4 linked regions of the Homo sapiens genome follow. The protein of the gene in region 4 purifies or fractionates together with the protein of the main gene of each other region. This does not show direct contact. Each region holds a gene or a part of one and is shown on either strand. Other genes may lie near its edges.

Region 1 (3,500 bases), on a different chromosome or scaffold from region 4:
GAATGTAGAGATAGCAAAGGATACCAGGTCATTGTAGGAAGGTATGGTCTTGCCAGAGAAGGAAGGCAATATTAAAGGACAACCTCCTTTGAGCACCCTTGGAGCTTGTAACACTCAAGAAACATACGCATTTAGTCAAACAGGAGATTTTCTGGGGTTGAGGGGGAAACACATTTTTCTTTATTCAACATTGAAAACTTAGGGAGTTTCAACTTTTGTATGTGAAGTGAGCTGATCAGCACCAAAAGTGGTGAGGAGAAGTGAGTTTCTCAAGTTTTGTAAGAGGACAGGACAAGACAAAAACAGCTTGTGCCCCAGAAGTTCTCCTTGTCTAAGAGCCCACAGCAGGAATGTATAATTGTTAAGAAGCCAGCTAAGAAGCCAGCTGTTGAGCTCAGAAAGACAGGTTCAAAGCTCATCTCCACTATTATCAAGGAGAAAGTGGGAGAGAAAAAAATCCCCGAATAAACTTGTTTTCTAAGGGGAAAAATAAGTCATTTTATTTGTATATGCCTTCTACAATATAAGCTTTTATTTCATATATGTGTGCATATCTATTGAAATAACAAATAATTTTCAGCTAGAAAAATTGTGGCTTTTTTTTAATCAACTAAGGAAATCCCACTTGTAATTTTAAAGGAAATCTAGATTATCTGAGATGAGATAAGAAGGCATAAAAGGGATCTTTTACTTTTAACCATAAAGATTCCTTAGATTCTAAACAATAATTACTTTAATTAAAAATCTGTAATGTTTACTTATGTTATAGAAACAGCTCTTGATACATAGCTCCCCTAATCTTAAAGTTATTAAGATTAGAAATACCTTTTTTGGAAAACTGAAAAAGAGATGAGAATGGGAGGCGTTTACTATTTGGAAACCCATAAAGTACTATTTAATACAACAAAATGGTTTACATACTAATTAACTGGGAAGTCTTAACACTAACTTTCTAAACTGAAGGTAGATTTTGTCAAAACTCTGCTAACATTTCCCATCAAACATAAAATAAAATTCAAAGTCCTAACCATGGTCTACGAGACCCAATTTTCCTTGGTCCCATTTGCTTCCCAAATTTCCCGCCACTCCCCTTGCTCATGCAGCCATGCTGACCTTCCTGCTATTCCTAGAACACATCAAATCGAGCTCTTGTCTCAAAGGGCTTGACAGTTGGATTCCCTTTGTCTGGAAGTTTCTTCCTCCTGAAAGTTACCTGGCTCATTCCTTCACTTAAGACAGATCATGGATCTCTGCTTGAATCTCACCTTCAAGAGATCTAAAAGAGTGGCTTTGTCATTCTTTATGTATTCTCTTACTGTGCTTTACTGAAGTATTATAATTTTTAAAAATGTCGGGTTTGTTAGATGAAAGTGGATTTGAGAGTCCTATGTGTTATGATTTTTATGATTCCCAGTTTGCAGGTTGCCGAAGAGAAAGGTATAATGATAGCTTCCCTGACCTAAATGTCGGTTTAATAAACATGTGTCTATCTTGTAGAAAATAATATAGTAGGTTATGTGAGAGTTACAAGAATGTAAGAATAAAACATTTGTTTTCTCCAAAGAATTTACTGCAGTCATAAGGCCAGACACAAATAATTCTCCCAATGAAATCCCTTGTGGGAAATTCTTGATGTTAGTTGATTTCTAATTTGCCACAACTCAACTTTCCTGCCTTTAATGGTCAAATTTATTTTAATTGGACTTTATAGTAATAACCAAAAACTTACTTGTTACACTGAAATAATACAACTAATCCTGGAACCCTAAAGTCCACACCCTTTTTTAGCTAATTGGTGCCACTAAAGTAAACAATTTTGAAAAATGAAAAAGATGCTAATTGCCTTGATGCACCATCAGACCACATGAATCTTCAGAATCAAGCAAGCATTTCTGCAAAGGCAACGTTTTCTCCCAACATGCTTAAGATTAGGCGTGATGAGGATTTGAAAGGGGATTTTAGCACTATGGTTTTGTGGCTTTACCAACAGTTGACCTTTGGCAGGTATCAAGATCATATTATGCTTAAAACAAGGTGGGATGAGGTCTTTCAGCAACCTCAGGACTTCCCGTTTCTATATATGTGAATGAGAATTTCTTCCGCCACAGAATATTCAAGACACAAGGAATTGGAGGTAAGAGTTGATTTTAGGAAAAGGAGGTGAAGTAGATGGCAGGCAAGAGAAGAAGCTTTTATAGAGAAGCCTTCCTTGAGAAAAGTAAATGAAGATGAGGTCAAGAAACAGTGGCTTCAGAGCTGCACGCTAATGGAAGTCAGCCCCTACCTGGGAAGTAGTGGTAATTTCTGGGACATAAAATCAGAAAGTCATCATACATTTGAATGAAGGACCAGAGAGGAAAAAAATAATTGTCTTCAGTATTAGTATGATCCAAAATGGAGTAAAAACTATTTGCAAATATATTATTGAAACTGCAAATCACAGTAGACCTATAAAATTTCCTGTAAGCAAGAATTGGCAAGTAACAATTCATAACACTATGTCTATTATTACCACATTACAATGTGTGAAATGTTACTGATATTTTTTTCCTGTCATTATTTTTCCAAGTATGTGAAACATTTATAGTTGTTTTTATAGGTTCACTTACATGCTAGTCCTCTAATCCAAATTCTTTAACTGAATTTAAGGGGATTTTAGTAATTTTGTTAACTCTGCAGATGCTTGGGAAGGTTTGTCGTATAACATGATACAGAATGTGATGAATGCTATTATGTACCTCTTGTGAGTATCTACTGGGTTTTCATCATCTCTGTATCCCTAGAGCCTAGCACAGTTCTCTTGGAAAGTATTGAGATCTCAAAGTCTGTTGAATTGAATTGAAGAAAATAATCAAGGACTATAGGCACTCCTGGAACTTTTGTGGGTAGAGTTTATTATAAATTAGTGCATGGAGTTGCATAGGAGTGGAGAGAGGCTTAATGGGTTAAAACACTGGTTCTGGAGTTAGATAGACCAGAGTATAAATTCTAGTTATGCTACTCACTAGCTATAAAGAGCTCTGAGCCTGTTTTCTCATCTGTAAAGAGGGATAATATTATTTTTGTTCTAAGATTGCTGTAAGGGTTAAATGAGATGCTGCTAAGGTGCTTAGCATTACAGATGGTATATAAAAAGAGTTCAGTATATAGTAGGTATTATTACTGTGAAACTTTTTACTGTTATTTTTTATTTTTCCCAAAGGAGACTTACATTTAGAGATTTAGTGCTAAAATACCTGTTTAGGTCCATTAAATGTTTAGAGACATTGGCTGCTGAGAGTTCAAATCCTGGGCCCTTCCCCAGCCAAACTGTCTTCTACGTTAAGAATAAGACAGTGTAGAAAAGTCTTGGGATGTCAAAAGGTAAAATGAGGCACGGTTAAGCTCAAAAGAATTTATTTGAGCAAATACCGATTCAGGAATTGGACAGCTGTGGTTTGCAGGCTTTTTGGAGGGAATGCAAGGAGAAGGCTTTTATAGGGTGAAAAAGGGAGTAAAGC
Region 2 (3,500 bases), on a different chromosome or scaffold from region 4:
CTCCTTTTCACCCAAGAGTTTAATAAAAAGTTCTTTAATTTTTAAAAAAATTGAGGAACTGCTCTGATGCATAATTTTCAAAACAACTGTGTATTTACATTCGTCAAATTACTTTCTGCAAGTCTGTTAGTACAAGGTGACTTGATGTAACACTTTTTGCTTGACTGATCTTTCCTTCTTGCCATATTATTTAAAGTTCTCCTGCATAAATTTTGTGTTAATTTCAAATTAGCCAGGTGTGGGTGGCGCATGCCTGTAATCTCAGCTACTCAGGAGGCTGAGGCAGGAGAATCACTTGAACCCGGGAGGCGGAGGTTGCGGTGAGCCGAGATCGTGCCATTGCACTCCAGCCTGGGCAACAAGAGTGAAACTCTGTCTCAAAAACCAAAATAAATAAAATTTTGTGTTAATTTCATAATTTTTTCTGACCTGTTTTTATTCCTCTATCCTGAAAGCCCACAAGCCTCCTAGTTTGTTGAAGGAGGGGAAAAAAGCAGATTTTTTTTTGAACACTTAAATTAAAAATTTCTATGAAAGGTGCTGCTGCTGCTGCTACTCCTGCATCTCTTGTAGAATTCTGAAAGGCGTTGAGAAAATAACCTCAGGTTTGCAAAAGTCCTTTCTGCTTCCCCATCCACAGATTCTATCTACTCTTGAGAGGCTGGACAATTTTGCTGTGGGACATTTTTCCCCCCCTCTACGAAAGCTGTCTGGAAGGAGGCCAGTGTGGAAGATATAACTAAACTTGCTATCTTTGTCCTGTTTACAAAAGAACTCTGAATACCCCTCTATTTCTGTATTCTTTCTTTTTACATCTCATAGAGGCCATCCTCATAGTTGATATTTTTAAATTTAGTATTTTTAGTACAGTGTGATTTGTTATGTTTTTACTATTGTTAAAAGGTTATTGAATGAGCTAAATTTTAGAACTCTAAATATGATTTAAAAACTGTTACTTGCTTTAAATTTATTTCCTATTCAAGTTATATAGGCTCATTATGTTTTAAAAAAACAAGAAACAAGTAGAAGTATGTAAAGAGTTAATCCTAGATGAGTCAGTATACTGAAAACAGGAATTAAGTGAAAGTCTGCATACTGAAATATTGAAAATATTTACTTACCATACCGAAATTAACTCTGGTTGATAGTTAAATATGGCTTTCTGGATTTTTTTTTACCTCGTATATACAAACAGGTATACCTTTATTTTACATGAAATTCTATAACTTTATTTTATGAATATCATGGATAGCTTGTCGTGTCATTACTTGTGTATTTAATATCTGCCTTATTCTTTTCTTCTTTTTCTTTTTTGAGGTGGGGTCTTGCTCTGTCACTCAGGCTGGAGTGCAGTGGCATTCAATCACGGCTTACTGAAGCCTTGACCTCCTGGGCTCAAACAATCCTCCTGCCTCAGCTTCCTGAGTAGCCAGGACAACAGGGATGTGCCACCAGGCCAGGTTAATTTTTTGTTTTTAAACGGAGCCTGGCGACAGACTGCAGTGGCGCAATCTTGGCTCACTGCAACCTCCGCCTCCTGGGTTCAAGTGATTCTCCTGCCTCAGTCCTCCCGAGTAGCTGGGACTACAGGCACGCACCACCATGCCCAGCTAATTTTTGTATTTTTAGTAGAGATGGGGTTTCACCATGTTGGCCAGGATGGTCTCAATCTCTTGACCTCTTGATCCATCCACCTTGGCCTCCCAAAGTGCTGGGATTACAGGTGTGAGCCACTGCGCCGGCCACCAGGTTATTAATAAAAATTTTTATTTTTTGTACAGATGGGGGCTGACTATGTTCCCCACCCAGGCTGTATTACATCTTCTGAAGATGCATCTGAGTTGTTAGCTTCCATGGTGAACTGTGGCTTGAGTGGAGATTCTGTAATAAAGACCTTCTATAAGTTAACGAATGCTTCTTTCATCATAAAGACTATGTAGTGCACTACAGCATCAAACTCCTGGGCTTAAGCTATCGTCCACCTCAGCCTCCCAAGTGGCTGGGACCACAGACATGCATCACCACGCCAGGCTAATGCCTTATTCTTTTCAATGTTTCTTTCTTTTTTTTTTTTTAGTATTTCATTGTTACTGGATATACCATCATTAAAAAAAATCGGTCCCTGATTATTTAACATACAGGTAATTTATAATTTTTTTCACTTTTTTTTTTGAAACAGGGTCTTGCTCTGTCGCCCAGGCTGGAGTGCAGTGGCGTAATCTTGGCTCACTGCAGCCTCCAGCTCCCAGGTTCAAGCGATTCTCCTGCCTCAGCCTCCCGAGTAGCTGCACTACAGGCGCACGCCACCATGCCTTGCTAATTTTTGTAATTTTAGTAGAGATGGGTGAATATTGGTCAGGCTGGTCTCGAACTCCTGACCTAAGGTGATCCAACCACCTCGACCTCCCAAAGTTCTGGGATTACAGGCATGAGCCACTGCACCCGGCTGTGAAATACTTTTTTTATTGTGGACAAGAAGAAGGAAATTCTGTCTATGCCAGTAAGACTTTGTGCTCCTTTAAGACAGACTTTCTTTTAAAGTGTTTTTACTTGCAGACCTTAACTGAGTTTCTTACATAGGAATGCTAAATCTTTTTTTTTTTGTACCTTTTTAAAATTGGAGATTAAAGAGAACATTCTTTTTCTTTTCTTTTTTTGGAGACAACGTTTTACTCTGTTGCCCAGGCTGGAGTACAGTGGTGGATCTCAGCTGACTGCAGCCTTGACCTCCCAGGCTCAGGTGATCCTCCCACCCCAGCCTCTGGAGAAGCTTGGGACTACAGGCACATGCCACCATGCCTGGCTAATTTTTTTTTTTTTTTGAGATGAGGTCTCGTTCTTGTCCCCCAGGCTGGAGTGCAATGGCGTGATCTCGGCTTACTGCAACCTCCACCTCCAAGGTTCAAGCGATTCTCCTGCCTCAGCCTCCCGAGTAGCTGGGATTACAGGCGTCTGCCACCATGCCTGGCTAATTTTTGTATTTTTAGTAGAGGTGGGGTTTCACCATGTTGGCCAGGCTGGTCTTGAACTCCTGACCTGAGGTGATCCACCCACCTCAGCTTCCCAAGGTGCTGGGATTACAGACGTGAGCCACTGCACCTGGCCAATGTTTTGTATTTTTTATAGAGATGCGGTTTCAGCATGTTGCTCATGCTGGTCTTGAATTCCTGGGCTCAAGCAGTCCTCTCCTATTGGCCTCCTAAAATGCCGGGATTACAGGTGTGAGCCATTGCTGCCAGCCTGTTCTTACTTTTAAGAGAGGATGATTTGCATAAAGCTAGTCAAATATATTAAGTATTGTTTGCCATGAAAACTGGTTGAGTATCTCTTTCTTTGTGAAAGAAAATTATGCTAAGACACACCAAGATATTTGCCTCCAAAGATTCTTTTGAGTTACATTTGGACCTTGGGAAATATCTGTGATAATTCTTAAGTCTGACCTTGCTTGACAGAACTAAAATTGGTTAACGGTAAATGCGAATGTAGTTAGTTCATCTTGG
Region 3 (2,825 bases), on a different chromosome or scaffold from region 4:
TTTTCATGGCTGGGTGCGGTAGCTCACACCCTGTAATCTCAGCACTTTGGGAGCCCGAGGTGGAAGGATTTCTTGAGCCCAGGAGCTCAAGACCAGCCTGGGCAACATAGGGAGACCCCATCTCATTAAAAAAAAAAAAAAAAAAAAAAAAAAAAGATTTACAAAGGTTTGCAGTGTTTCTGTATTTTACAAAAGGATTCTTTTTGGCTGGGCACAGTGGTTCATGCCCATAAGCCCAGCACTTTGGGAGGCCGAGGTGGGCAGATCACTTGAGCTCAGGAGTTCAAGACCAGCCTGGGCAACATGGTGAAACACTGTGTCTACCAAAAATACAAAAAATTAGCTGGGTGTGGTGGTGCATGCCTGTGGTACCAGCTACTTGGGAGGCTGAGATGGGAGGACCACTTGAGCCTGGGAGGCAGAGGCTGCAGTGAGCCCAACTGTGCCACTGCACTCCAGCCTGGGTGACAGTGAGACACCATCTTAAAAAAAAAAAAAGAATTCTTTTCAATACTCAAATGAATTTTAGCCTGTTTTATCAAATACATTTTTTAAGGAACAGGTCGATACAAAAGCGAGATATGCCTTTATAAGATAAAGAAAAGTTTACAAGAAACAAGCTCAATAGATATAAAAAAATGATTAGAGTATGATGAATATTTTTTTCCTTTCTACTTGCTAGATACTCAAAGTCCATAAATATGTCCAGATGTCCACTGAAATATCTCTCATTTATTCTTACTTGGTTTCTATATGTAAGAATATTTTGATTTAAATAGTTTATATGCTCCTGAAATTTCTGAGAAATTCAAGTCATTATTTTAAATGACTTCACAATAGGAATCCCATCATGTATATTTTCTTTTCCTTTTTGTTTTTGAGATAGGGTCTCATTTTGTTACTCAGGCTGCAGTGCAATGGTGTGGACATGGCTCACTGCAGCCTCAACCTCCTGGGCTAAAGCACTTCTGCCACAGCCTTACAAGTAGCTGATACTACAGGTGTGCACGACGCCTGGCTGATTTTTATATTTTTGTAGAGACAGGGTCTCTACAAAAGACCAGGCTGGTCATGAACTCTTGGCCTCGAGGGATACTTCCACCTTTGCCTCCCCAAATGCTGAGATTACAGGCATGAGCCACTGTGTCTGGCCACATAAATTTTCAGTTCAATTCAACAAACATCTACTGGGTTTCATTAGAGGGACCATCAATCCTTTTATTGACACCATTAACTCCCAACAATCTTATAGGTAAATCTGGGTTTTCTTATCTTAGGTTTACTTATAGTAAGGTACTTGGTAAGAAGATAAAATGTTTCCTATTCTTCATTTATATTGTAAGTCATCTGCATGCTTATCTAGAATTTCAACTTACAATTTGCCTGGTACATTGTTACCCTACTCTGATTCTTAGAGGAGCCCAATAACCATATCCATTCTTCGTGTAAGAAACTGTCACTGTTGAAAAGGGACTCCAAATGTGCATAAAAGATAATCTCAAAACCAATGGTTGCAAAATGAAACATGAACAGTCAAGCTGCCTCTTTAACACAGGCATTTACAATTAGGTTGCCTTCAGTTTGGAAACCTCTGTTTAGTTTCCCTGCAACACAGATTTAATGTCCATCCCTATCTAGTGCTTTAAAACACACACATACAGGCCAGGCATGGTGGCTCATGCTGTAATCCCAGCACTCTGGAAGGCCAAGGCAGGCGGATCACCTGAGGTCAGGAGTTCAAGACCAGACAGGCCAATGTGGCAAAACCCTGTCTCTACTAAAAATACAAAAAAATGAGCTGGGTGTGGTGTACCTGTAGTCCCAGCTAGTTGGGAGGCTGAGGCAGAAGAATCACTTGAACCCAGGAGGCAGAGGTTACAGTGAGCAGAGGTCACGCCACTGCACTCCAGCCTGGGTGACAGAGTGAGACTCTCTCAAGAACAAAAACAAAAACAAAACCACACACATATATAAGGTCAAAAATCCTTTACATTTCTGTTTTCTCAAAGTAATATCTTCCCCCAACCCCTTGGACATTTCTGCTATGGTATTATTGGAAAACCTCAAAATTGTATTTTAGGGTTTCTGGAGTCCATGGAGAATCCCTAACCCATATCATAAAACATAAAATATATAATAAAACATAACCCATATCATAAAACATAAAATTCTCTCTGGATTAATGTTGTTGAACTATATGTGAAAGGTGGGAATTATAAACTGAACCCTCTAGAGTTTACCCTGAAAGGCTAAACACACAGATGACCTGGAGTGGAGGCAGGAACCAACGTACCACATTTTTTGTACAAATTGTTGGCAGTTCTTAAAGGGACAGAAGATTACTGTTTACATTTTGCAGTCTCTTGCTTTTTTAAGACAATTTCATGAATGATAAAAGTGATGTCGGGAAGACATAAACCTGAAACTCCAACCCCCATCCTCGCTCTTTTATTTTGTTTTAAATCATCATATAGTAATTTGAGTTTAAGACTAACTTCAGCCATTCAGAATAATATTGAAAGTATTTCCTAAATCATTTAATAACAGTGACCACAATAAATAAAGATTTGGTTCTAAGATTACAAATAATGAAAAATGTTAACTTTGAGATTCAAAACCCTGTAGCATCTGGAAAAGGTTGTTTATAAAGTATAATCATAACAATAACATTAAGACTTATGTGTGAAATAAAACATTTCTGAAACACTTAGGAATACATGCTTATTCCACTTTTGGGATAACTACTAGTACTTCCTGAAATCTGTTGGGTAGTAATTTCTGTAAAAAGAAAGCAGCAATTCCAGAAGCTGGGTGTCGAGATTATT
Region 4 (3,500 bases):
CTTGACACAAACACGCTCACATCCCAGGCTGCATACGTGTTTTGCTTTAGAAATGACATGAAGCCTTTTGACTATTTTTAAGAGAAAGGCAATGGCTGTGATATTTCCCCTGCACCTCCCTCTCGGGGCCACTTGGTTAAATGTCAGGAAAGGGAGAGTATTTCCTGGTCAGGAACATTCAGAGCTTGCTGGGAGCTGAAGTTTTGTTTTCCATTAAGTAGGTATTCGGGGAGTCTATTTCCCTCTGCCTCCTCTGTTTCCCTGGAAGCTTGCGCTTGACAGTTGCAGGGAGGAGGGGTTTGAGAATGAGCAGCCGAGATGCCCACGTATCGCGTGCCCGCTCTAGGAGTGGCGGGGTGGCTATTTTTAGCCATCCCGATTCAGTAGAGGCATTTCAGCGTTTGTTCAATATTTAATTATCCATCTGAAATTGGCCCATGTGGCCTTCAGTTTGGAAGCAGCTCTCTGTGCTGTGATTTCCCAGTTGCATAAATAAGGAAGCAAGGGAATCTCAATAGCCCTCCAAATAATAATAACGAGAAAAAAAAGTAGACTCGATACTCAGCAAAGACAGGCTTGGTTCCTCGGTCTAGACAGACCACCTGTATGTTAGCAGAGAAGCACCACCGAGGACGCCCATCACGCCCTTGGAAATGCGGCGGTGCTCAGTCTCCGAATCTCAGATCCACAACTGCCTGGGTTTTATTGGGGATGGGTTTTCCTCCCTTCGCCAGGTTCCTGTGTTGACTTTGACAGCTGCTGGGTACCTGAGAGGTGGTTTGGGGATTTTGCTTTTGGAAGCCTTGTTAGCTTTTATTTCCCTCTTCTCTTCTCCCTGACAGACAGGAGAGTACTATCGGCATCTGGGCTGTGCTATTTCTTTTTCCTTGGCCTTTGGAGGCGATGTGCCGACATAGTTGTGAAATGAAAAAAGGCAGAGCACAGGGAGGGAGATGTTGGGGCCATGAGGCTCTGCCTTCCTTCCCCAAGCCCCTGGCTGATGAGGGAGAGAGGGGAGAAGAGGAGAGAGTGGGGCCCAAGGGTGCTGGGCAGTCGGAGATGACTCCTTCCTACTGTCCTGCTTGGCATGGAGATTTGTGGACTTTGGGTTCGGAGACTGGAAACCAATAAATTGGTAATCTGGAATAAGCTTGGTTTTTCTATCCATTTACACCTCTATTCTGGGGACACAGAGTTTGGCCTAGGAGCGTGTACAGAGTCCTGACTAGGTCATAAATGCTGTGTGACTGCAGACAAGTCACTGAACATCTCTGGGCTCAGAAGCACATGTAACAGATAGATATGATGCAGCATAGGGTGTCATTATAGGCCAGGAGAATTGTCATTATTAGCTGTTCACCCAAAGTCTGAGGGGTTGCTTGCAAATCAGTTAGGGCTGATCTAGAAAGAAAACGTTTGGGAGGCCGAGGTGGGCGGATCACGAGGTCAGGAGATCGAGACCATCCTGGCTAACACGGTGAAACCCCGTCTCTACTAAAAATACAAAAAAATTAGCCGGGCGTGGTGGCAGGCTCCTGTAGTCCCAGCTACTTGGGAGGCTGAGGCAGGAGAATGGCATGAACCCGGGAGGCTGAGCTTGCAGTGAGCCGAGATCGCGCCACTGCACTCCAGCCTGGGTGACAGAGCGAGATTCCGTCTCAAAAAAAGAAAAAAGAAAAGAAAAAGAAAGAAAACGTGATGCCAGTGGGGACTGGACCCACCTAGGTGGTTTCTCGGCATCCCTACCCTGAGAGGCTGCCACAGGTCTCACTGGTACTTGTTCAGAGCAGCAGAGCTTTAGCGAGCCACCTAGTATGTGTGACCTGGGTGCCAGGGGCTGCCACAGCAGATATAGCCAGCCCCCGCCCTCGGGAGCTCAGAGGCCAAGGGGAAGAGTCTTGGCATAAGGTTAGCAGATGGTGTGACTGGAAAGGTAGGCAGGGCCTTGAGTGGTGAGCAAAGAGGGGAGAACAGCCCCTGGCAGACCACTGGGAATCAAAGGAAGGATTTTGAAAATAACAGGAATGATAACAGTGATCTCCATGTCTTGAGCACTTACACAGCACCAGGGGTTCTTCTAAGTCCTTTACATGCATCCTGCCTTAAATCATCATTCTCCCAGGTGGTGTTATCAGCTCCACTTTCTAGATGAGAAAACTGAGGCTCAGACTGGTTAAGTGACTTGCTGAGCATCACCCAGCTACTGAGTGGCAGAGTCCAGGATGTTTAACCCTCACTATACTTACCAGAGCTGTGATTTAGGAAAAGAACTCTTAACAACCCTCAAGCTAGACTGGTATGGTGCAGGGAGAAGAAAGTGGGAAGAGGGAGCAGGGAGGCCAGTCCGCTTCCTGGGGAATTTTGAAGGAGGCCGGCAGGTGCAGGATGGGGGAAGGCAGAGGGCAGGTGGAGAGGAGCTGGGAAGTTTGGAAGGGCTGACACAGGAGAGAGGATGCCGCCATCTGAGGGCCAGTGCTGGGCTCCTGCCACGATCTCTCCCTGGCCTGCGGTGAAATGAGGACTGTAAGGGCATTGCAGCGAGTTTCCCATAACATCCATTTCACTTCAGTAACCCATTTTGATGCCTCTTTTTTATTCTGAGATGATGGTCTTTGGATTCTTTGGGGTTAGAACATTCCTTTTATGCAATACATAAATGTCTAGTATGCACCATACTAAATGGTGTTCTTTTTTTTAAACATCTATATTTGGCAAGAAAAGAAGTCAGTGGTTCTGTGTGGCCCACCCTCATATTATGCTACTTCATAGTTTTCATTTATAGACATTGAACTAGTTCCTGGAATTCTCACAGGATGGTAGGCTGACACCCACGAAGGAGAAGTCCAGGGGTCGTCCTTACAGCGAGAGGAGTGGGAGCTGGTGGTGGGATAAGGTGGTGGGATAAGGCCCTTGGAAAGGCGTGAAGAAGCGGGAGGATGAGGGTCATTGAGGGCTGGGGTGGGGGATGCCCGGCAGGCTGTGGACATGGCTGATGGGCCTGCCTTGGATGCTGATGCTGCAGGGGTTTTGGCACAAGACTGGGCAAGGGGCTTTTCAGGGAGCAGCTTCAGGAGAAGGCGAGAAAGGTGCTGGAGCCTGCAGGGGATCGATTATTTGGGGGAGAGGAGGTGTGGGGTGCAGAATAGGACAGGATTGGAGAAGTTTGGTGAAAATGGGGGTGCAAGAGAAGCTTGGATTTCCCATTAACTGTCAATACAGTCATGGTTCCACCTGGTATCTAGAAACCTGTTCACAATTGTAGGTTTAGCAGCACACAGGGTGGGGTAAGTGTCTCTCCCCATCAGGAGCAGCCTCTGAACTCTCCTGGGACCCTGAGCTTCAGGGAACCCAGGCTGTGGCCCCCCTCCCCCACTTTGGCAATGCTGTCTGCAGAGGGAAGGGCCGGTTTTACTAGCACAGGGAGTGCTCCGGCTCCTGTGTGTCGGGGAAATTCTGGAAGAGGCTCTCTTCCAGAAGTTATGGAAGGTCCCCGGGAGACA

What was found. The genes of interacting proteins can lie anywhere in the genome.
Region 1: the proteins of DAB2IP (region 4) and ANKRD22 purify together in Homo sapiens (co-immunoprecipitation; one large-scale study listed by IntAct). This does not show direct contact.
Region 2: the proteins of DAB2IP (region 4) and ASXL2 purify together in Homo sapiens (affinity purification with mass spectrometry; one large-scale study listed by BioGRID and IntAct). This does not show direct contact.
Region 3: the proteins of DAB2IP (region 4) and SLC30A4 purify together in Homo sapiens (co-immunoprecipitation; one large-scale study listed by IntAct). This does not show direct contact.

What each region holds. Positions count from the first base shown.
Region 1 is NC_000010.11:88,841,845-88,845,344, reverse strand, and holds part of ANKRD22 (ankyrin repeat domain-containing protein 22), read left to right. Parts: intron 1-3,500.
Region 2 is NC_000002.12:25,868,488-25,871,987, reverse strand, and holds part of ASXL2 (putative Polycomb group protein ASXL2), read left to right. Parts: intron 1-3,500.
Region 3 is NC_000015.10:45,481,931-45,484,755, forward strand, and holds part of SLC30A4 (probable proton-coupled zinc antiporter SLC30A4), read right to left. Parts: 3' UTR 1-2,825. UniProt on the Homo sapiens protein: Probable proton-coupled zinc ion antiporter mediating zinc import from cytoplasm potentially into the endocytic compartment. Controls zinc deposition in milk.
Region 4 is NC_000009.12:121,658,134-121,661,633, forward strand, and holds part of DAB2IP (disabled homolog 2-interacting protein), read left to right. Parts: intron 1-3,500. UniProt on the Homo sapiens protein: Functions as a scaffold protein implicated in the regulation of a large spectrum of both general and specialized signaling pathways.